Regions from separate parts of the Homo sapiens genome. Here all the other regions are linked to region 3. The links come from fine-mapping of genetic effects on gene expression. A gene starts in region 3. Each other region holds a variant in brackets. All regions are shown on one strand. Distances are between the middles of the regions.

Region 1 (5,148 bases), 390 kb before region 3:
GGAAGGCCGTGAGGGTCTGCAGTCCGAGATGGCCTTGTCCTCAACCTGCAGTGCACTGTTGATGCGCTGGAAGGCCGCCTCCTTCTCCCGGTCCAGGTCTTCAACAGTGACCCGGTACCCCAGCTCTAAGGGAGGTGGCAGCATCAAAGGCTCCCCTCGCCTGCGTGGCAGCAGGGGAAACTTGTGTGTACTGGGCCTAGAGGCCTCGGATGTGGAGGAGTCATTCCTGAGGGTGAGTGTCTGCCCTGGTGCTATATCTGCTGCCTTTTCACACTGGGTGTGACCTGAAGAGACAGCCTGAGGCCTGTCCTCACTCACTGTCTTTGAGGAACTGAGGGTCAGCTGGCAGTGGGATGAGGCTGGCCCCCTCCTCCGCTTTAGCCCCGGCAAGCCTCCCGTGGAGCTGTAGGAGCTGGAGATGGCATTTCGGTTGGTGCAGGAGCTCGTCCAGGAGGTCTGGGATGTCGGGTTATATCTGATTTCTGACCTCTGGGCATGGAGGTCTGTCTGCAGAGGCCCGGGCCCGGGCACAAAGGGAGAGAGGCCTCCATTGTCCCGCAGGGGCCGAAATGCAGACGGTGCATCCCCGGTGACCTCGGGGACCCTTCTCTGATCACCAGGATTCTCTTGGACTCTAGGGTCCTTGTCCTGCTCAGGCATCCCTGCCCCGCTCTCCTTGAGGGCCCTCAACACTATCTTCCCTGGACACAAGTCTGGGGACAGCCGGGTGTTGTGGACCCCAAAGGGGTGACTCCCGGCTCCTGGGCCCCACAGAGAGTCCATGTTCTCAGTGCAGTGGCTGAGCTGGAGGACGCCCTGGAACTCGGAGCACACAGCACTGGCTTGCTGTGGTACCTGTGCAATCAAATTGAAGGCAGGATCCCAGGAAGGAACGCAGGGCTTGCAGGATCACGGAAAACCTTCTTAGAGTTGTCTTGACACCACTGATGTCAAGTGTCCGGGTGCTTGTAGGATGGCCTGCCACTCAGTCCACGGGCAGGAGCAACGGGGAGATCCCACAGGCAAAGTGAACTGGGGGATGGGCTGAACGGGCTCCAGGCAACTGAGCCCTACTGGCAGGTCCTCGGCCTGGGCCCGAACAGGAAGGAGGGGCACAGAGTGCCCAGGTAACCGCTCCTGGGAGCAGTGGGGAACCGTCGGTTGCTTGAACTCTCGAGAGCTGGGCTCTGAGCGTCCTCGTCCAGCCGCCAACTCCGCCAAAGGCTAAGCCAGCAGTTTCTTCTGTTGCCGGGCAACGCGCCTTTTAAACCTGAGGGAGTGGGCGCGTGAGCACATCACGGCGCCCGTGACAGAGCGAGCTTAACGGATTAATAAGCGCAGCCAGGTACCCGCGCGAGGCACTTGCTGGCAATGGCGGGAGGCGGACGTGGGGGGTCATGCAATAGGTACTGGAAGGAGAGAGGCGGGCACAAAGGTTGCGGGAGGAACAGGTGCCCACAATGGTGGCAGATCTGCCCGTGGATCACTGAAGATTCCTGCTCTCCTGCTGAGGTGGAGATTGCAGTGAGCTGAGATCGCACCATTGCACTCCAGCCTGGGCAACAAGTGCAAAACTCAGTCTCCAGATAAAAAAAAGAAAAAGAAAAAAAAGAGGCCGGGCGTGGTGGCTTATGCCTATAATCCTAGCACTTTGGGAGGTCGGGGCAGACGGATCACGAGATCAGGAGTTGGAGACCAGCCTGGCCAACATAGTGAAACCCCGTCTCTAGTAAAAATACAAATTTAGTCAGACATGGTGGCACGCGCCTGTAGTCCCAGCTGCTCCGGCGGCTGAGACAGGAGAATCACTTGAACCCGGGGGCGGGCGGGGAAGGGATTGTGATGCGCCGAGATCGCGCCACTGCACTCCAGCCTGGGCAACAGAGCCAGACTCTCTCTCTTTTTTTTTTTTTTTTTTTGAGATGGAGTCTCCCTCTATCGCCCAGGCTGGATTCCAGTGGCCTGATCTCAGCTCACCGCAAGCTCCGCCTACCGGGTTCACGCCATTCTCCTGCCTCAGCCTCTGGAGTAGTTGGGACTGCAGGCGCCCGCCACCACACCCGGCTAATGTTTTGTATTTTTAGTAGAGACGGGGTTTCACCGTGTTAGCCAGGATGATCTCCATCTCCTGACGTCGTGATCCCCCTCCCAAAGTGCTGGGATTACAGGCGTGAGCCACCGCGCCCGGTGTTGAAACTC[C/T]CTTGAGGCATTTTCTTCGGCCTTCGGGTCCATCCTCTGTCTCCTCCTTGACCTCCTCATCTCCTCCTCGCCACTGCCTTGGGGACCTTGGCCAGGCTCATGGCATCCAGCAGCCACTCAATGTCAATACCTCCATGTTCATCTCTCAGCCCGCCCTTGCCCGTGAACCCATGCTTATTTATTTATTTTTTTATACGTGCACCCATGCTCTTCAGGTCTGATGAAGTATCCAGAATCAAGCTCCTGACCATCCCCAAACCTGCCCTTTCTGCAGGGTTTACCTCGCTAGTCGGCACCATCCTTGATTCTTCTCTTTCTCCCACCCAGGCCATCATCTCTTGCCTGGTTGATACCCACAGCCTCCCCTTTGGGCTTTATCCTTATCCCCGTCATAGCTGCCAGAGGGACCCTGTGAAAACACTCCCCAGCCTGCTCATTCCTCTGCCCTAAGCCTGCATGGCACAGAGCAAAAGCCAGTTGTTATGGGACCTAGGAGGTCTTGTGGGATGGGCCCCAGCCTGCATCTTCATCCTCTTCTCCCCACCCCACTCCATTCACTCTTTGCCTATCGCTCACCAGCCTATACCACCTGCCTCAGGGCCTTTGCACTGACCATTTAGGCCACATTCCAGGCTCTTTTCACACGTTGCCTCCTCTGAGAAGCCCTCCCTGACCACTCTGCCCATACCTCATGCCTCTTGATTCCCCTTACCTGGCTTGTGGTTTCAGCACTTTCCCTGTGTGTGTTTGTTTTTCTTGGCATGAGGGCAGGACCTAAGTGTCTGTTCCCTGTTGATTCCCCAGTGCCAGGCATGCAGTGCAAACTCTAGAAATATTTTTTGCATGAAGGAATGAGTGATTGAATGCAGCAAGGGTCTGGAGGCTGAGGACCAGGCAGACAGACATTCAGAGTTGCTGGAACGCGACAGAGACAGGGAGTCAGACTGGTCTTGCAAGATCCTGGGCCTGCCCTTGGGTCCTGGGGAGCCACGGAAGGTTGTGGGTGCCAGAGGGTTGTGATCAGAGCCACAGTCAGGGGCCTTTTGAGACCTGTGCCCCCTCCCCACCCTCCCTCCCCACCTCCTCAGGCCAGCTCTGGGGTCTCGGCAGGTGGTCCGCAACATGACCTCTGAGTTCTTCGCTGCCCAGCTCCGGGCCCAGATCTCTGACGACACCACTCACCCGATCTCCTACTACAAGCCCGAGTTCTACACGCCAGTTGATGGGGGCACTGCTCACCTGTCTGTCGTCGCAGAAGACGGCAGTGCTGTGTCCACCACCAGCACCATCAACCTCTAGTAGGGGCTGCTGGGCCGCCTGGGTGGGAAAGGGCCAGGGGCGGGTGGCCCAGGGACTGCCCACTTATCCAGTAAGGTGGCTCCGTCACCTCTTTTCCTGGTGGGAAACTGAGGCCCAACCTTGGTAGCTTATCCTGGGCCTCTCAGTGAGTATGTTTGAGCCTCAGTGGGTGGATAGGGACCAGGCTGGGCCAGGCAAGGTCGGGCACTGTCTGACCTGGCTGGGCGGTAGCTTTGGCTCCAAGGTCCGCTCCCCGGTCAGCGGGATCCTGTTCAATGATGAAATGGACGACTTCAGCTCTCCCAACATCACCAACGAGTTTGGGGTGCCCCCTCACCTGCCAATTTCATCCAGCCAGGTATGGGGTGGAGGTCCGGGGGTGGGGGACTGGGGTGGAGAGGGGCGGGTGTCCTGGGCAGGCAGCTGACGGGCATCCCTGTCTTCTCCCATCGGCCATAGGGAAGCAGCCGCTCTCGTCCATGTGCCCGACGATCATGGTGGGCCAGGACGGCCAGGTCCGGATGGTTGTGGGAGCTGCTGGGGGCACACAGATCACCACAGCCACTGCACTGATATGTGTCACAGCTTTTCTCCCTGGCCGTGCCCACCCTGCACAGCCCCCAAGCCACGCTGATCACACTCCCATGCCCCAGGCCATCATCTACAACCTCTGGTTCGGCTATGACGTGAAGCGGGCCGTGGAGGAGCCCCGGCTGCACAACCAGCTTCTGCCCAACGTCACGACAGTGGAGAGAAACATTGACCAGGTGGGCCGGGGGTTGGAGAAACTGAGTCACGGTGTGGGGCCCCAGGGCATCCTGGGCTGGAGGCCTGGATCATCACAGAGTGGACAATGGTTGGTGTCCTCTCTCTAGTGCCTGGGCCATCTGGAGCCCCTGTGACATGAAGGCCAAACCCCCTGCTCCAGTGAGACCCAGCAGGCCCCAACCTGCTCTTCCTGATGACCTGGCCCGAAATGGCACCACCTGGGCTGAGGCCTGTGACCACACAGATGTGGTTCAGGTGGCATCTGGAGCCTTGCTCAGGCTTCCCCTCTCCTCCCACCCCCAGGCAGTGACTGCAGCCCTGGAGACCCGGCACCATCACACCCAGATCGCATCCACTTTCATCGCTGTGGTGCAAGCCATCGTCCACACGGCTGGTGGCTGGGCAGCTGCCTCGGACTCCAGGAAAGGCGGGGAGCCTGCTGGCTACTGAGTGCTCCAGGCGGACAAGGCTGACAAGCAATCTAGGGACAAGATACTCACTAGGACCAGGAAGGGGACTCTGGGGGACCGGCTTCCCCTGTGAGCAGCAGAGCAGCACAATAAATGAGGCACTGGAGAGGCGGGATTCGGAGATCTTCACGCTGCGGTCGCTGGAACTAGCCTCAGCATCTTCAGCATGGGGAAAGCCAGGCACGTGGCTGGGGGCCAGGGGAAGGTCCATGCCAAGCCCTGCCCCTTCCCACCCTGATCCCTCAGACTTGGGGCCAGGCCCTCCCTTCCCTGGGCTGGGCAGCAACACCACCTAGGACCAGCCACCAGAGGGTGCAGCGACCCCGGCCCTTTCTTAGGCAGAGAGTGGCCAGCTGATGCCGGGAACCCGGGTGCCTTCTCAGACCCGTAGGCGTCCAGCTCACCCTGCCGA
Region 2 (5,148 bases), 500 kb after region 3:
AGGGTCTGGCTGCAGCCTCTGAAGCCAATTTCTGGTTCGTGATGACTCTGCAGATTGTGATGGGTGAGGCTGGAGCATACCAAGCCTCACAATAGATCTCATTTTTGTTTAATACGTGTAACACCTCTGGCACCACTTCAGCTGTAAGCAGTATGTCTCTTGTTTAAGTGGCAGTTGGTTGGGGTTATTGCTTTTTTCTGGGGAACACCCTCTGGTTTCCCATGTGGAATTACATGATGTGCAGAGTAAAATCCTAGGAACTGGCCTTAACTTCTAAGCAGTTGGGTAGGACTTGGGAGAGTGGGCATATCTGGGGGCTTCAAATGAACTCCCCCAAACCTCTCCACCTCCATCAATTTACCCCAGCAGATATATGGAAAGCACATATTAGAGCAGGCATTGGGCCACAGCAAGCCCATGTCCTACTGGGCCCCTTACTCAGCTTTGTCTGTGAACCATGGGATTGATCAGGTGTAGATTTTGTGGTGGAGAACACTGAACTGGAAGACAGAAGTCTGAGAATCCACTGGGTGACATTTGGGGATTCCTTGTGGAAAGACGGGGTTGCTCTGGGGGAGGGGCTCTCTCAAGCACCCTTCACTGTGGCTCTGCACTCTATGAATCCAGGATTCTATGACATTCTCCACCGCAGCCTAGGCATATGCAGTGTTTCTGGAACCTCAGTTATTCTCATACTAATATCGTGGTTTTTTGCCTTATCAGCGTATCATCTGTACTTCTATGAGCAGTTTTCTTTAAATGAAGTAACTCTTTTTACTTCAACATGTTCACTCAAAAAGGAGACTTTATACCATTTCCATAAGTGCAAGACCTGTATAACCTGCAATAATTAGAGGTATGCATGGAAAATGTGTGAGTGCAGTTTTTTAAATTAAATTGATGGTAAAAATAAAAAGTACATAAAGAAATGACAGTAAAAACACTTCTAGTTTACAAAAGTATATAACTGAAAAAAAGTCACTTAATGGGAAAAGCGAACCATTGAAGGCAAGTTAGTTACATGAAAGCAGGGACACCCTTGATCGCCATCATGACCACCAGGTAGGTGACAAGGCATTGGCTCTGGCAAGGGTCATTGTCACCAAAGTCATTTCCTTGAGCTTCAGGGAACATCTTCCTGTTAACATTCAGTTCATTGGGCAGGAGTTGTATTATGTTTATACCTTCCCAGGCCCATGATGTTGTGTTATACTTAGGGGGTCAGACTCCCTGGAGTCAATCAGGTCCTAGGACTGACTGGTCAGAGCATCTAGAGGAAATTTTGGCCTGGTGGTGGGTCGTAGAGAAGAGACCTGTACTCCCGTGGGCATAACTAGTCAGCCTCATTGGCTCAAACAACTGGAAGTCGGGTCATGTACATTCATCAGGCAATCACCCTGAGACTGCTGAGCAAGACTTATTAGTGAGAGCAGGGTAGACTATGGTAGCAAATAGGCCCAGAATTTCAATGGCTTATTTTTCGCTTAGGTAAAGGACTAGAATGTTGTTCAGGTCAATAAGGTGGCTGTCCTCCATATGGTCATTCAGAGATTGAAATTAAGGTGTCAGCAAACTTTCCCTATAAAAGGGCCAGATAGTACGTACTTCGGGCTTTGCAGGCCATGGGCTGTCTGTGACAACTGCTGTGGTAGTGAAGGTAGCCCTTAAACAATACCTATGCAAACAGGCATGGCTGTTCTTCAATAAAACTTTATTTTTAAAAAGACAGTGGGCCAGATTTGGCCCTTAGGCTCTAGTTTACTCACTCCTAATCTAGACTACGGTGTCTTTGCCATCCTTAACTCATGGTTTCTAAAGTTGCCATAGGTGTCAATTCCCCATCACCTGGAACAGGCAGGAGCAGAAGTGTGACCATGGAGCATTTGTATGGGCCAGGCCTGGCTGTGGCACTCTTCACTCCCACTCAGAGTCCATTGGTGAGAACTTATTCACGTGGTCAATCTAATTGCAACCAAGGCTGGAAAATGTAATCTGGCCGTGTACCAAGGAAGGTGGGACAGATTTTAACAGATTGCCAGCAATCCTTGCCACAGGTAATATCCATTAAACCATGGACTCGATAGTAAGGTGTTTTTTTTTTCCTAATGCACAGCAAAATAAATACACATCCATTCTATAAGTGCTTTATAGTTTCTATGCCATCTAAAATGATCTCGCATAACTCCAGGAATAAGTGCACTACACTCTGATAAACACTAAGTTTTTGTGTTTCTTTGATTCAAATCACAAAAGCCTGATTATAAACCCAGATCCTATTTGTTAGCACTACTCTATTAACCCTTCCTTTAGCCTGTTAAGAATAAAATGGTAACAAAGATGATTCAGAAAGCAATGTAAAAATTTAGACTCAGAGAAGTTAAGATTGAATTATAATCTGGAAAGAGCCCTGTAAATTCAAACTATAGATTACATTGTAAGCATCCAGGTGAATAGAGTGGCCTCCATAGAGAGGCATGTGCTGTGTGTTTTCTTGCCCTGAGAACTGTCAGTGTTCATATATCTCAATGCCCAAAACTGTGATGTCTCTTGATGGTACCGGGTATTGAGACATGGGCAAAATTTGGAGAGGCAGAGAAGAAATTAACATTGGTACAAGGCAGATTCAGGGGCTTCTTGGGGAGGCCAGTTGGACTGGAAGGGTGAATGGAAGACAGAGAGCTTCAATGCCAAGCTAAGGAGAACAGACTTCATCCCTGGACAATGGGGAGGAGA[T/A]GCTGAAAGTCTTTAATTCTGAGACTGACACGATGAAGGGCATTTCCAAAAGTAGAGCCTGGCAGAAGCAGCCAAGCCATCTGAAGGGACCAGTGGTTATTCTCAAAGGGAAACTCCTACACACTCTTCAGGAGGGTAGAAGGTAAACAACTCCTTTTTAAAGGTGCCTAAGTCCTATGCTTGCAAAAGCTTGGCTTTGGGGCTTACACAGGACTCAGCAAGCATAAATGACATTAAGCTTCTCCAAAAAGCTGGACTGTAGAAAGGTCTACCCAAATCCCAGGAGCTACTGATGCTGGCCCTATGTTCTCACTTTAGAAGGTCATGCAAGGGACTAAATCTCTAGAATCCTTTGTGGGCTGGGTCACAGCTGGGGTGGGGAAGTTGTAGCCCTTCTGAAACTTCCCACATAGCTGTCCTTCCATGGAGGCCAGGAGCACATCAGGGTGGGTACAGTCCACAGTCCTCTCCATCCCACCAGCCAGGCTCCAAGGGGTCTTCACATCCACAAAATACCATTTTCACAGATCAGTAGCATGCACACCAAGACACGCAAATTCAAACCAGATATCCAAATGGCACCTATTGAATTTGCAAGGATCTTTACCACTATTCTTTCAGTGGTAGTGCCTAGTGGCAAGAATATAGAAAACCAGGAACTTTCACCATTGATGTGAGAGATCAATTAGTTCAAGCTTTCTTGGGGGCAATTTGGCAAAATCTATCCTAACATTTCAAAGGGGCATCTCTTTTGCCCTAGCTATTTTTTACTAACCATGTTCTTTATTGTCTCCTTTCTGATACTTTAACATCCAGGGCTTTGCTGCTCCTGGAGGGTGCTCCTCCCAGGTTTAGCCAATTCCTAGAAATAAGCCACTTGTCTCTTAGTGTGCCTTTCATATACAAACTCACCAATCCAGAGCCCACATCCCCAACCACCTCCTTTATGGGGCTCTCCCACTCTGGACTAATAGCCTCACACCCTAATCACACCAGGGCTAGGTACCAGATGGAACAGCCCCGATGCCACAGAGCCCACTGAAATTGTTTGAACTAACCAATCCTGAACCTGCTCACCTTGCCTTACCTCTTCCTTCCTATGGAAACCACAGCAACACCTCTTGCAACATCCCCCATCCCCACCACCTTCTGACAGACTGCAGCATTCTCTGTGCAGCCTCTTGCTCCCATGGCATGGAGTGTCCCCTTGTCTTGGGATTTGCAAGTAACAAACTACTCTTTTCTTTTCTTTCTTCTTTCTTTTCTTTTCTTTTGTTTTAGATAGAGTTTCACTCTTCTTGCCCAGGCTGGAGTGCACTAGCACGATCTCAGCTCACTGCAACCTCCATCTCCCAGGTTCAAGCAATTCTCCTTTCTCAGCCTCCCAAGTAGCTGGGATTACAGGCACCCACCACCATGCCCAGCTATTTTTTTTGTATTTTTAGTAGAGACAGGGTTTCACCATGTTGGTCAGGCTGGTCTCAAACTCCTGACCTCAGGTAATCCATCCACCTCGGCCTCCCAAAGTGCTGGGATTACAGGCGTGAACCACCGTACCCGGCCCAAATTGCTTTTTCAATGGCTGACATCTGATCTGTTGGCCCTGCCATACCTAAATAATAATAAAACCTTTACTTTAAAGCACTATTCTCTAGGAATAATTCTGAATGAACCCAAAGATACATGTATCAGATGGTCACCTCAGTGAAGTTGACAATAGTATAAAATAGGAAATGATTTGAATGGCTAACAATAGTAGATGGTTAAATAATTTATTGAGTATTACACTATGGGAAGCAATGTAGCTGTCAAAAGGTAGAAAAAATTGTTTTTAAATGTTTGTGTAAATGAAAAATCGTTCACCACTTCCTGTGAAAGAAGAGGGATCCAAAATTTTTTATTTCCCCCCGCCAATTATCCTTAAAAAAAAAAAACCATGAAATAAAGTTTTTAAAGCTACAAACCCACATAGACAAACTGTGGAAGAAGAGATGACAGCATTTTGGACACTGGAAGGCCAGCTTTTTTGAGATGGAGTCTCGCTCTGTTACCAGGCTGCAGTGCAATGGCACAACCTCGGCTCACTGCAACCTCTGCCTCCTAGGTTCAAGCAATTCTCCTGCCTCAGCCTCCCAAGTAGCTGGGACTACAGGCACCCGCCACCATGCCCAGCTAATTTATTTTTAGTAGAGACAGGGTTTCACCATGTTAGCCAGGATGGTCTCGATCTCTTGACCTCGTGATCTGCCTGCCTCGGCCTCCCAAAGTGCTGGGATTACAGGCGTGAGCCACTGTGCCTGGCCGAGAACTAGTTTTAGAACCGAGAAAGTAAACGTTAACTAATGGAGAGAAAGACACCATCATGCACCTATGCAATCAGAATAGACAGAAAAGACTCCCTGGGTTTAGGGGTAC
Region 3 (5,148 bases):
GGGATTGCAGGCATGCACCACCACACCCAGCTAATTTTTGTATTTTTAGTAGAGACTCCTGACCTCAAGTGATCTGCCCACCTCAGCCTCCAAATTGCTGAGATTACAGACGTGAGCCACCGCACCCGACCTGTAGTTGAGGTCGTCTTAGGGATTCACAGAAGTATTTATCTTTCTCCTTTGGTGATTTTCTGTTTTGTTTTTTGAGACAAGGTCTCATTTTGTCACCCAGGCTGGAGTGCAGTGTCGCAATCTTGATTCACTGCAGCCTCAACCTCCTGGGCTCAAGCGATCCTCCCACCTCAGCCCCCCAAGTAGCTGGGACTACAGGCACACACCATCATGCTGGGCTAATTTTTTTGTAGAGATGGGATTTCACCATATTGCCCAGGCTGGTTTCAAACTCCTGAGCTCAAGCGATACACTCGCCTTGGCCTCCCAAAGTGGTAGGATTACAGGCGTGAGCCACCATACCCAGCCCACTCTTTTGTGATTTTTAATTACAAAATGACACGTTTGTTAAGATTTTTGAAAATTCAGTATATACTGAAAGTTCTCCACTCCTCCAAAGGCACAACAATTAACTCCTTCCCTCAGGTATTTTCCTAGATATTTGCAAAGTAGTTGACTTTACAAAAATTGAATCGTTGATATCTTCCCCCAAAAAATACTGCCTTTCTTGTTCTGGCAAATTGTTCTGTAGAATTAAATGTATTATTTTTGAAAACTTTGATACAATTTTCATGACAGAAGGATGTTTGGCTAAGGTTTTCTGAAGTTTCCAGAACCTACGGACTATTTATTCATTTATTAGTCAAATACTGAGTGTTGGCCGGATGTCGTGGCCCACACCTGCAATCCCTGCACTTTGGGAGGCCGAGGTGGGCAGACCACTTGAGGTCAGGAGTTCGAGACCAGCCTGGCCAACATGGTAAAACCCTGTCTCTACTAAAAATACAAAAATTAGCCGGGCTTGGTGGTGGGCACCTGTAATCCCAGCTACTCAGAAGGCTGAGGCAGAATTGCTTGAATCCGGGAGGGAGGCGGAGGTTGCAGTAAGCCCAGATCGCGCCACTGCCCTCCTGCCTGGGCAACAGAGTGAGACTCCATCTCAAAAAAAAAAAAATGCTGAATGTTTATCTCAGCCAGGAAGTGTGCTGGGGGGCAAGATACAGCTGGGAAAGAGACAGCTGTGCTTTCACCATTCAGTGAGATACTGCACTGGAGGCTGGGGGAGCAGAGGAAGTGGCTCTGGAGGGCAGAATCCTGCTGAAGGCCTTGCCATAGGTCTGGAGACAGGTTGGTGACAGGGGCCCTGGCTGCCCATAGTTCCAATAAGGCCTAAGTAACTTTCTCTAAGGCTGGAAGCCTTAGGAAGAAGCCAGGTGAGAAACCTGGCATCTGGTCCCATTGAGGCCAAATTACAGCTCCACGGGGGCCGCATGGAAGTGAGAGCTCCCTTAAGACAGCAGATGTGAAGGAAGCAGCGAACACAGTGCTTGATGGCAGCTGAGCTCATGTAGCAGGAGATATTGACAGGTCTCTAAGACTACAGGAAATCGTTGAATTCAATGAGATCATGCATGGAGATTGCCTATACCGTGCCTGGTCATGGTAAGCATTCAGACATTAGCTACGATAGGGACCATTAATTCAGCAAACAAAGATTTATTGCCTCCCTATTATGGTCAATAATCCTACTGTTCTAGGTGTTGGGATACAGCAGTGAACAACAGACAAAATCCATGAGCTGTCAGAGCTTTCCTTCCAGCAGAGAAAGACAAGCAATCGCAAAATGAACAAGCAAAATATATAGTACATCAGCTGGTGCTACAGAGACTTAAAGCAGTGAAGGGGCGTAGGAAGTGTTTGGACCAGGTGGTGCTATTTTATTTTATTTTATTTTATTTTTATTTTTTAGAGACAAGGTCTCGCTACGTCGCCCACGCTGGAGTGCAGTGGTGAGATCCTATTAGATCCCTGCAGCTTCGAACTCCTGGGCGATCCTCCCACCTTAGTTGGTGCTATTTTAAATAAGGCTGTCAAGGAATACAAGTGCAAATCAAGACAAAGGAGGTGAGGGAATGTGCCATGCAAATACCTAAAGAAATCAGTCCAGATTGGGAAGGAACCCCTAGAAGCGGTGGGCAGTGCAGTGCGGGCGCTCTCCTCTGGCTGCGCCCTTTCCCTCTGTGAGGCAGGACGTCAGGTCAGAGCTGAGGGAGCATGAGGAGGAAAGAGGCGGGGGTGGGAAACAGTCTCGGGAGGGGGCGAGCAGTCAGGATTGCAGCGCTCGGAGGGCTTACTGCCTCTGAGGTCAGGGCTGATCGGCAGAGGATTTAGCATCTCTGGGGGCTGGGATGCCAGGGTCCAGCAACCTTGCTCTGGCCCACAGGCCGACCCTGGGCGTAAACACCTGCCTATGCACATCTGAGCCTAGCACCTAACGCCACTGTACATACAAGCACGATATTTTTGAACATTTGACGACTTAGTTAAGCCTCCCAGGTGGCTGCACCTGCGCAGTTCACTCAGGTCCGCAATCCCTCATCTGAAACGCCTGGTCTGGGCAAGTATGAGAATTCATACCATTCTAGATCGCAGGAGGGCGTGGAGCATTCGAAAGAGGGGCCTGAGCGGAGGTCTTGCTGTCCCAGGGAGACCCCGGCTGCCATTAGCAAGCGGTGAGCCGGCAGCCTGTGCGCGGAGGGAAGGGCAGCGCGCAGCGCCCAGTGGTGAAAGAGGCGCTAGCGCACGCGCAGTGAGCGTTTGAGAGGAGCAAACCCGTCGAGACGAAGCTGTAGCGCAAGCGCAGTGGGTATTGAGAGCGGCCGCACCAGCTGAGGGTTCGCGCAACGCTAAACGATGGCCGGGACTAAGGCCTGAGACTCAAGCTCAGGCGCAGTGAAGCGCAGAGCCGCTAGAGTGTCGCGGAGGGCGCCTGAGGCGCATGCGCGGACTCAGCGTTTTTAAGAAGGGCTGGGGGTGCTGGGGAGTTCGCCCCAGCGTGTTGGGGGGGAGTCGCCGCCGCGGGGGGGGGGTTTGGGGTCACCGCCGCGGGGTTTGTCGCCGCCGCTGGGAGCTCACCTGCGTCCGAGGCCGTAAGGACGGCTCCAGTTCATCCTCCATCCGCCTCTGCCGCAGCACTGAGGCTGAAAAGCCGCTCACTCCTTACTCGGCTAAGCCCCAAGCTCATCTCTGCAGGCCGGAAGGGAGCTCTGGTCCAAGGTCATCTCGGCCAAGCCCCTGCATTCGCCCTCGCAAGTGCCAGCAAGCGACTCTGGTCGCCGCGCTCCCAAGTCCTCCCCCGAAATTCCGGCTCTGGCCCCTCGTCCCCCTCCTTTGCTACAGTCTCTGGACTAAATGTCTGCGGGTCTCTGTCTCTCGCTGGTCTGACCTCAGCCGCAACCCTGCGCGATTCCCTGCGCCGGTCGCCACTGCCGGCCGCCAGAACCTCGGAGGCCACTGCCCCTGGGCGTTCTCCGGAGGGCCAAGCCCTTGGTTGTGCACATCTATGCACGCCCCACCTACACCCCCCCCCCCCCACACACACACACTTTGGTTCAGGTATCCCCGACCTTTCCCCAGAGGACGGGAAAATTAGGAAAGACCGAAAGATAGACCCACCAGTCTTCGGAGCGCTCTCATCTGTGCGTCCTGGGCAGAGCGAGAGACTTGGCGGAATGCGGGTAGGAGAACCGGTCTCGGGTTGCCGCCAGGGGATCCATTGCGTGAGAGGCAGGTCCGACTTATGCTGGGGGCACTTGGAGTTGAGGAACCACAGAGTCCACTGAACCGGATTAATCTTTTATCCCTCAGGGCTTCTCAGGCCCTGCATGGAGGAATCCAGGAGCTGGACAAAGACCAACTGAAACTAGACTTGCCAAAGATGCTATTTGTGGTCACAGAAACATAGAGCTGGACATGACCTTAAGAAGTCACCTGAGCAGACACTGTGATGGGCACTGTAGTAGCTCTATTGCTCAGACTTGGTTTTTGTTTGACTTTTGCTGCTCTGAACTTTAATTCCTAAAAACACTGCATTTTTAAGGAAAAACACAAAATATTAGCAGTTATAATAAATAGGTATTTTATTGCATGCTTTTCGTGCATCTATTAAGATGATCATATGGGTATTCTCCTTTAATCTGTTAATGAGATCAGTTACATCAATAAACTTTCTAATGGTAAACCATTCTTGAATTCTTGGGGTAGACGCAACTTGGTCATAATATTATTGTTATTAATACATTGTTAGTTTCAACTGCTGATATTTTATTTTGATAGGTTAATTTTTTTCTTTTTTTTTTTTAATTTATTTATTTTTTTTTTATTGATCATTCTTGGGTGTTTCTCGCAGAGGGGGATTTGGCAGGGTCATAGGACAATAGTGGAGGGAAGGTCAGCAGATAAACAAGTGAACAAAGGTCTCTGGTTTTCCTAGGCAGAGGACCCTGCGGCCTTGGCCTTCCGCAGTGTTTGTGTCCCTGGGTACTTAAGATTAGGGAGTGGTGATGACTCTTAACGAGCATGCTGCCTTCAAGCATCTGTTTAACAAAGCACATCTTGCACCGCCCTTAATCCATTTAACCCTGAGTGGACACAGCACATGTTTCAGAGAGCACAGGGTTGGGGATAAGGTCACAGATCAACAGGATCCCAAGGCAGAAGAATTTTTCTTAGTACAGAACAAAATGAAAAGTCTCCCATGTCTACTTCTATCCACAGAGACCCGGCAACCATCCGATTTCTCAATTTTTTCCCCACCCTTCCCGCCTTTCTATTCCACAAAACCGCCATTGTCATCATGGCCCATCCCCAATGAGCCGCTGGGCACACCTCCCAGACGGGGTCGTGGCCGGGCAGAGGGGCTCCTCACTTCCCAGTAGGGGCGGCCGGGCAGAAGCGCCCCTCACCTCCCGGATGGGGCGGCTGGCCGGGCGGGGGGCTGACCCCCCCACCACCCTCCCGGACGGGGCGGCTGGCCAGGCAGAGGGGCTCCTCACTTCCCAGTAGGGACGGCCGGGCAGAGGCGCCCCTCACCTCCTGGATAGGGCGGCTGGCTGGGCGGGGGGCTGTCCCCCCCACCTCCCTCCCGGACGGGGCGGCTGGCCGGGCAGAGGGGTCCTCACTTCCCAGTAGGGGCGG
Region 4 (5,148 bases), 27 kb before region 3:
GTGGCTCACGCCTGTGGTCCCACCTACTTGGGGGGCTGAGGTGGGAGGATCGCTTGAGTCCAGGAGGCAGAGGTTGCAATGAGCTGAGTTCATTCCACTGCCCTCCAGCCTGGGCGACAGAGAACCCTGTCTCAACAACAACAACAAAAAAAAGTAGACAAAATATTTGAACAAATTATTCATAAAAGAAAACCCACAAATGGCCATACTGAGCACATGAAAAGATGTCAAACATTATTAGTCATTAGGGAAATACCACAATTAAATGACAAGATACCACTACACACTCACTAGAATGGCTAAATTGAAGAGACTGACAATACCAAGTGCTGATGAGGATCTGGAGTATCCAGAACTCATACATTATTAATGAGAATGTGAAACAATATAATCAACCACTTTGGAAAACAATTTTTATACAGTTAAATATACATTTATTATTAAGCCCAGCAATTCATTTACCCAAAAAGCTAGACTGACTGTTTATGTCCTCCCCAGGTTCATACCTTGAAACCTAATCCCTCATATGATGGTACTTGGAGGTAGGGCCTTTGGGCCTCCTCGGAGGTGATTAGGTCATGAGGGCAGAGCCTGCATGAATGGGATTGGTGCCCTTATAAAAGAGACCCCAGAGAGCTCCCTTGCCCCTTCTGCCATGTCTAGGAGAACACAGCAAGAAGACCGCCATCTATGAATCAAGACATGGGCCCTCAACAGACACTGAATCCACTGGCACCTTGATCTTGGACTTCCCAGCCTCCAGAACCATGAAAAATAAATTTCTGTTGTTTATAAGCCACCCAGGCTGTGGTTCTTAGTTATAGCAGCCCGACGGACTAAGACACAAAAGAAATAAAAACATATGTTTAGACAATTATTATTGTAGGAACATTCACAGCAGTTTTATTCATGATGGCCAAGAATTAGAAACAGCCAAAATGTTCACCAACAGGTAGATGGATAAATAAATCATGGTCTAACCACAGAGGGGAATACTACTCAGCAATACAAAGGAGTCTCTCCTAATACGTGCAACAACATTCATGAATCCCAAAAACTTTATCTGGAGCCAAGCCAGACACAAATGTGTACATACAGTACGGAATGACTTCAGATTCTGAAAAAAGGCAAATCTGACCAATTGAGGCAGAAAGCAGGTCAGTGGTTCCCCAGGTCTGGGACTGGGGTGGGTTACTGATAGCAAATGGGCATGTGGGTGCCTTGGGGTAGGGTAAAGGTTCCATCTTGATCACGGTGGTGTTTCCCAAGTGTATACACTCACCAAAACTATACTTAGAACTCAAAACTCGCCAAATATATACTTAAAATGGATGCAGTTGGTTATGTATAAATTATACCTCAATAAAGTTGATTAAAAACATCAATTCCTCAGAAAATTCTTTTCTGACCACTCCCCTCTCAGACGAGGTCGGGCCTCCTGGTATGCATACCCATACCCACTACAACCTGTATTTATTTTTTTTGAAACATGGTCTCTTTCTGTTGTCCAGGCTGGAGTGCAGTGGCTCAATTAGGACTCACTGCAGCCTCGACCTCCCAGGCTCAAGTGATCCTCCCATTTCAGCCTCCTGAGTAGCTGGGACCACAGGCATGTACCACCACACCCAGCTAATTTTTTTTTTTTTTTTTTTTGGTAGAAACAGGATCTTACTATGTGGCCCAGGCTGGTCTCAAACTTCTGGTCTCAAAGCAATCTTCCCATCTTGGCCTCCCAAAGTGCTGGGATTACAGGCATCAGCCACCTCACCTGGCCAACCTGTATTTTTCTTTCACTGCATTTCCTGAGTCTGTAATTATTATTATTATGTTTTAAAGAGATGAAGTCTCCCTCTGTCACCCAGTCTGGCATGCAGTGGTGTGATTGTAGCTTACTGCTACCTTGAACTCTTGGACTCAAGTGATCCTGCTGCCTCAGCCTCCTGAGTAGCTAGAGCTGTTAGCACATACCACCATGCCCAGCTAATGTTTAAAATTTTTTGTAGAGATAGGGGGTCTCACTATGTTACCTAGGCTGGTTTCAAACTCTGGCCTCAATTGATCCTCCCACCTTGGCCTCCCAAAGTGCTGGGATTACAGTCATGAGCTGCCACAACCAGCCTGTAATTATGTTGTTACTGATTTTCTGTCAGTTAATTACCTTTAGCCTGGAATACCACGCTCACCATTGATTGCTAAGCACCTGGAGCCATGTCTGCACACAAAGGGTGCTCAATAAACACTCCTTAAATGAGGAATGCAGGAGGGAGTGAGGACCAGGGCCCTGGCAGGAAGCAGAGGACAGGACAGTAGCTGGCTTTGGCTCTGGCCACCCCTTTGGGACTAGAGTTCTGTTGACTGGATAACCTCCAGGCTCCTCCACGTGGGGCCCTGGGCCCGCCTGGGGAAGTTGAGTCTGTGTAATTCCTTGGAGATCTCTTGGAAGGTCTTGCCTTTGGTCTCAGGAAGGAACAGGCCAGTGTAGATGG[C/T]CCCACAGACACAGACACCAAGGAAAGGGACATAGAGGAAGTGGGACAAGGCCTCCTGCGGATTAAAAAAGACCCCAAGACCTGGTGTGTCTCCATCAACCCCTAAACAGAAGGCCCATGACAGGTCGTGAGGAGGCATTTGCCCCCCTCTTTGCTCCCCTAAGACCCCTCCCTTTCAGTCTCAGTCTCCCTGGATGGAAGCCTCCCCCTGGGGTTCTCAGGATGACAGGGACACAGCCTAAGGCAGGGCCCCCAGCGGGAGGGGCGGGCCTACCATGATAAAGGGAAATCCCAGGCCGACCAGGATGAGCATGATCCACATGAGCGCCCCGCAGACCATGCAGGCAGCAGGCCTGGCCATCTGGTCAAACAGCTCTGTGGCCAGGATCCCCGTCACTCCGGCTAGAAGGAGGGGCAGGGACAGGGGGCTGCTGGCCAGGGTTCCCTGCCTGCCTCTCCCCGACCCCAGCCCAGACATGGGAGTGGGAGCCCAGGCCCAGTCTGTATGGGGGGCCCCTCAGTGCTCTCCTCCTGCCATTCCCTCCCAGAAGCCCCGGCATGAGGTGGTCTCTGAGGGCCTGCAGGGGACATTGCATTCACACCCACCCACTGTGCACCCAGGCACCCATCACTCCTTCTATGTGATGATGGATGCCCAGAGCCCCTTGGGCCCACTCACCAGGGCCAATGCCAAAGCTGAGGATGAAGGCAAAGATGCAGGCCATGGCCAGGTAGAGTGTCCAGGGGAAGGAGCTCTGCCGTGGACGGGGCGGGGGTGAGGTGGAAGTCAGCCCGGCCTGGACCCCCCAGCCCTCATCCACCCCAGCTACCTGCAGGCACAGGGCCACAGTGAAGATGCTCCCCCAGCAGGTCATCAGGCTGTACCCACCGATGAGCAGCACGCGCCGACCCACCCTCTCGATTACCACACACTGCAAAGGCAGAAAGCACAGACCCACACACCCAGCCATGGTCCCTGAGGTCTGGGGCAGGCAATGGGAAGGGGTCTCCTGAGAAAGCTGGTGGTGGAGGTGAGGGTAGTTTATTGCTTCAGTGTGACTTTATTAATTTCCCAAAGGAACTTGGTCAATCAATCACCCAACTTCAGCCAGTTTCCGCATCTCAAAATGGTGCTGGAAGTGACCCGCAAACCGTAGATGCTCAATAGATGCTCTCTAACTCACTGCATTGATTGATTGATTGAGACAGGGTCTTACTGGTCTCACTGAGCTGAGACAGGGTCTCACTGGTCCAGCCCACGCTGGAGTGCAGTGGCACAATCTCGGTTTACTGCAGTCTCAACCTCCTAGGCTCAAGTGATCCTCCCACCTCAGCCTCGCCAGTAGCTAGCACTACAGGCGAAGACCACCACGCCTGGCTAATTTTTGTATTTTTTGTAGAGACGGGGTTTCACCATGTTGCCCAGGCTGGTCTCCAACTCCTGATCCCACCTCAGCACTATTGCCTGGGCTGGAGTGCAATGGCACCATCTCGGCTCACTGCAACCTCCACCTACTGGGTTCATGCGATTCTCCTGCCTCAGCCTCCCAAGTACCTGGGATTACAGGCGCCCGCCACCACGCCGGGATAATTTTTTGTATTTTTTAGTAGAGACGGGGGTTTCACTGTGTTGGCCAGGCTGGTCTCGAACTCCTGACCTTGTGATCCACCCACCTCGGCCTCCCAAAGTGCTGGGCTTACAGGCATGAGCCACCGCACCTGGCCCCTCACTGCATTTTAACACCATAAGCTGGAGTGTAAACTGGTTTAATGCAGAGGACCTGGGGGTCCCTCCCCACAGGGCTGGTGGAGGAAGGGCACCCTCCAGACTCACACTAACAACCGCCGTGAGCAGCTCGCAGCTCCCAGTCCCGATGATCGCGTACTGGATCTTCGCTTCCGGCACTCCTGCCTTCCGGAACACGGAGGAGGCGTAGGCGTACACCTGGGAGAGGGTGGCTTTCAGGCCTGGGCTCCCTTCCACCTCCCATGGCTCCCAGCGGCCTGCAACACCAAGCCCCCGGGGCCCAGGGTGTGCGGCGGGGCAGGGGTCTCACCGAGTCATTCCCGCAGAGCTCCATGGCACTGCCCAGAACCACGAGGCTTGTCACCTGTCTCCTCAGGGCCCGATGCTGGAACAGCTCCCATGGGCGCCGGGCACGGCAGCCCTGGCAGGCAGCGCGCTCCTCCTCCAGCTCCTCCAGCTCCCCTGCCAAGTCCCCGGAGCCCCGGAGCCGCCGTAGTGCTGAGCCAGGGAGGAGGGTACTGAGCTCCCCGTCCCCAAGCCCCTCTTTGGTCCCCCTACAGGGACGCCCCCCTCCATCCCACCATTCCTTTCCTTCTTGGCTCACTCTCTGTCTCTGAGTCTGTCTGTGTGTGTGTGTGTCTCTCTCTCTGCCTCTGTCTCTCTCAATCTCTCTGTCTCTGTGTGTGTCTCTGTGTGTGTGTGTGTTTCTCTCTCTGCCTCTCAATCTCTCTGTCTCTGTGTCTGTGTGTGTGTGTGTGTTTCTCTCTCTCTCTGCCTCTGTCTCTCTCAATCTCTCTGTCTCTGTGTCTGTGTGTGTGTGTTTCTCTCTCTCTCTGCCTGTCTTTCTCAATCTCTCTGTCTCTGTGTGTGTCTCTGTGTGTGTGTGTGTTTCTCTCTCTGCCTCTCAATCTCTCT

Evidence for each region. PIP is the estimated chance that this variant, and not a neighbour inherited with it, causes the effect.
Region 1: its variant is fine-mapped to the expression of SLC2A11 in spinal cord (GTEx, PIP above 0.99).
Region 2: its variant is fine-mapped to the expression of SLC2A11 in thyroid (GTEx, PIP 0.96).
Region 4: its variant is fine-mapped to the expression of SLC2A11 in whole blood (TOPMed, PIP above 0.99). The same link has a PIP of 0.9 or more in cerebellum and cerebral cortex.

What each region holds. Positions count from the first base shown.
Region 1 is chr22:24,247,640-24,252,787 of GRCh38, reverse strand. It overlaps the pseudogene GGTLC4P and the pseudogene POM121L9P. Among named protein-coding and RNA genes, the nearest start is that of GGT5, 5.1 kb to the right of the region's middle. RefSeq lists enhancers at 707-1,207, 4,015-5,003 and silencers at 5,103-5,148, 4,913-5,148. The variant C/T (reference allele first, on the strand shown) is at 2,200.
Region 2 is chr22:23,351,863-23,357,010 of GRCh38, reverse strand. No RefSeq gene overlaps it. Among named protein-coding and RNA genes, the nearest start is that of LINC02556, 28 kb to the right of the region's middle. The variant T/A (reference allele first, on the strand shown) is at 2,734.
Region 3 is chr22:23,855,471-23,860,618 of GRCh38, reverse strand. It overlaps SLC2A11 (solute carrier family 2 member 11), which reads right to left and starts at 2,744. Exons shown (of 12, transcript NM_001024939.4): 1 at 2,590-2,744. The coding sequence starts at 2,619.
Region 4 is chr22:23,882,042-23,887,189 of GRCh38, reverse strand. It overlaps SLC2A11 (solute carrier family 2 member 11), which reads right to left. Exons shown (of 12, transcript NM_001024939.4): 7 at 4,544-4,731; 8 at 4,321-4,431; 9 at 3,317-3,418; 10 at 3,166-3,241; 11 at 2,761-2,888; 12 at 878-2,541. The coding sequence ends at 2,341. Among named protein-coding and RNA genes, the nearest start is that of MIF, 9.8 kb to the left of the region's middle. The variant C/T (reference allele first, on the strand shown) is at 2,487.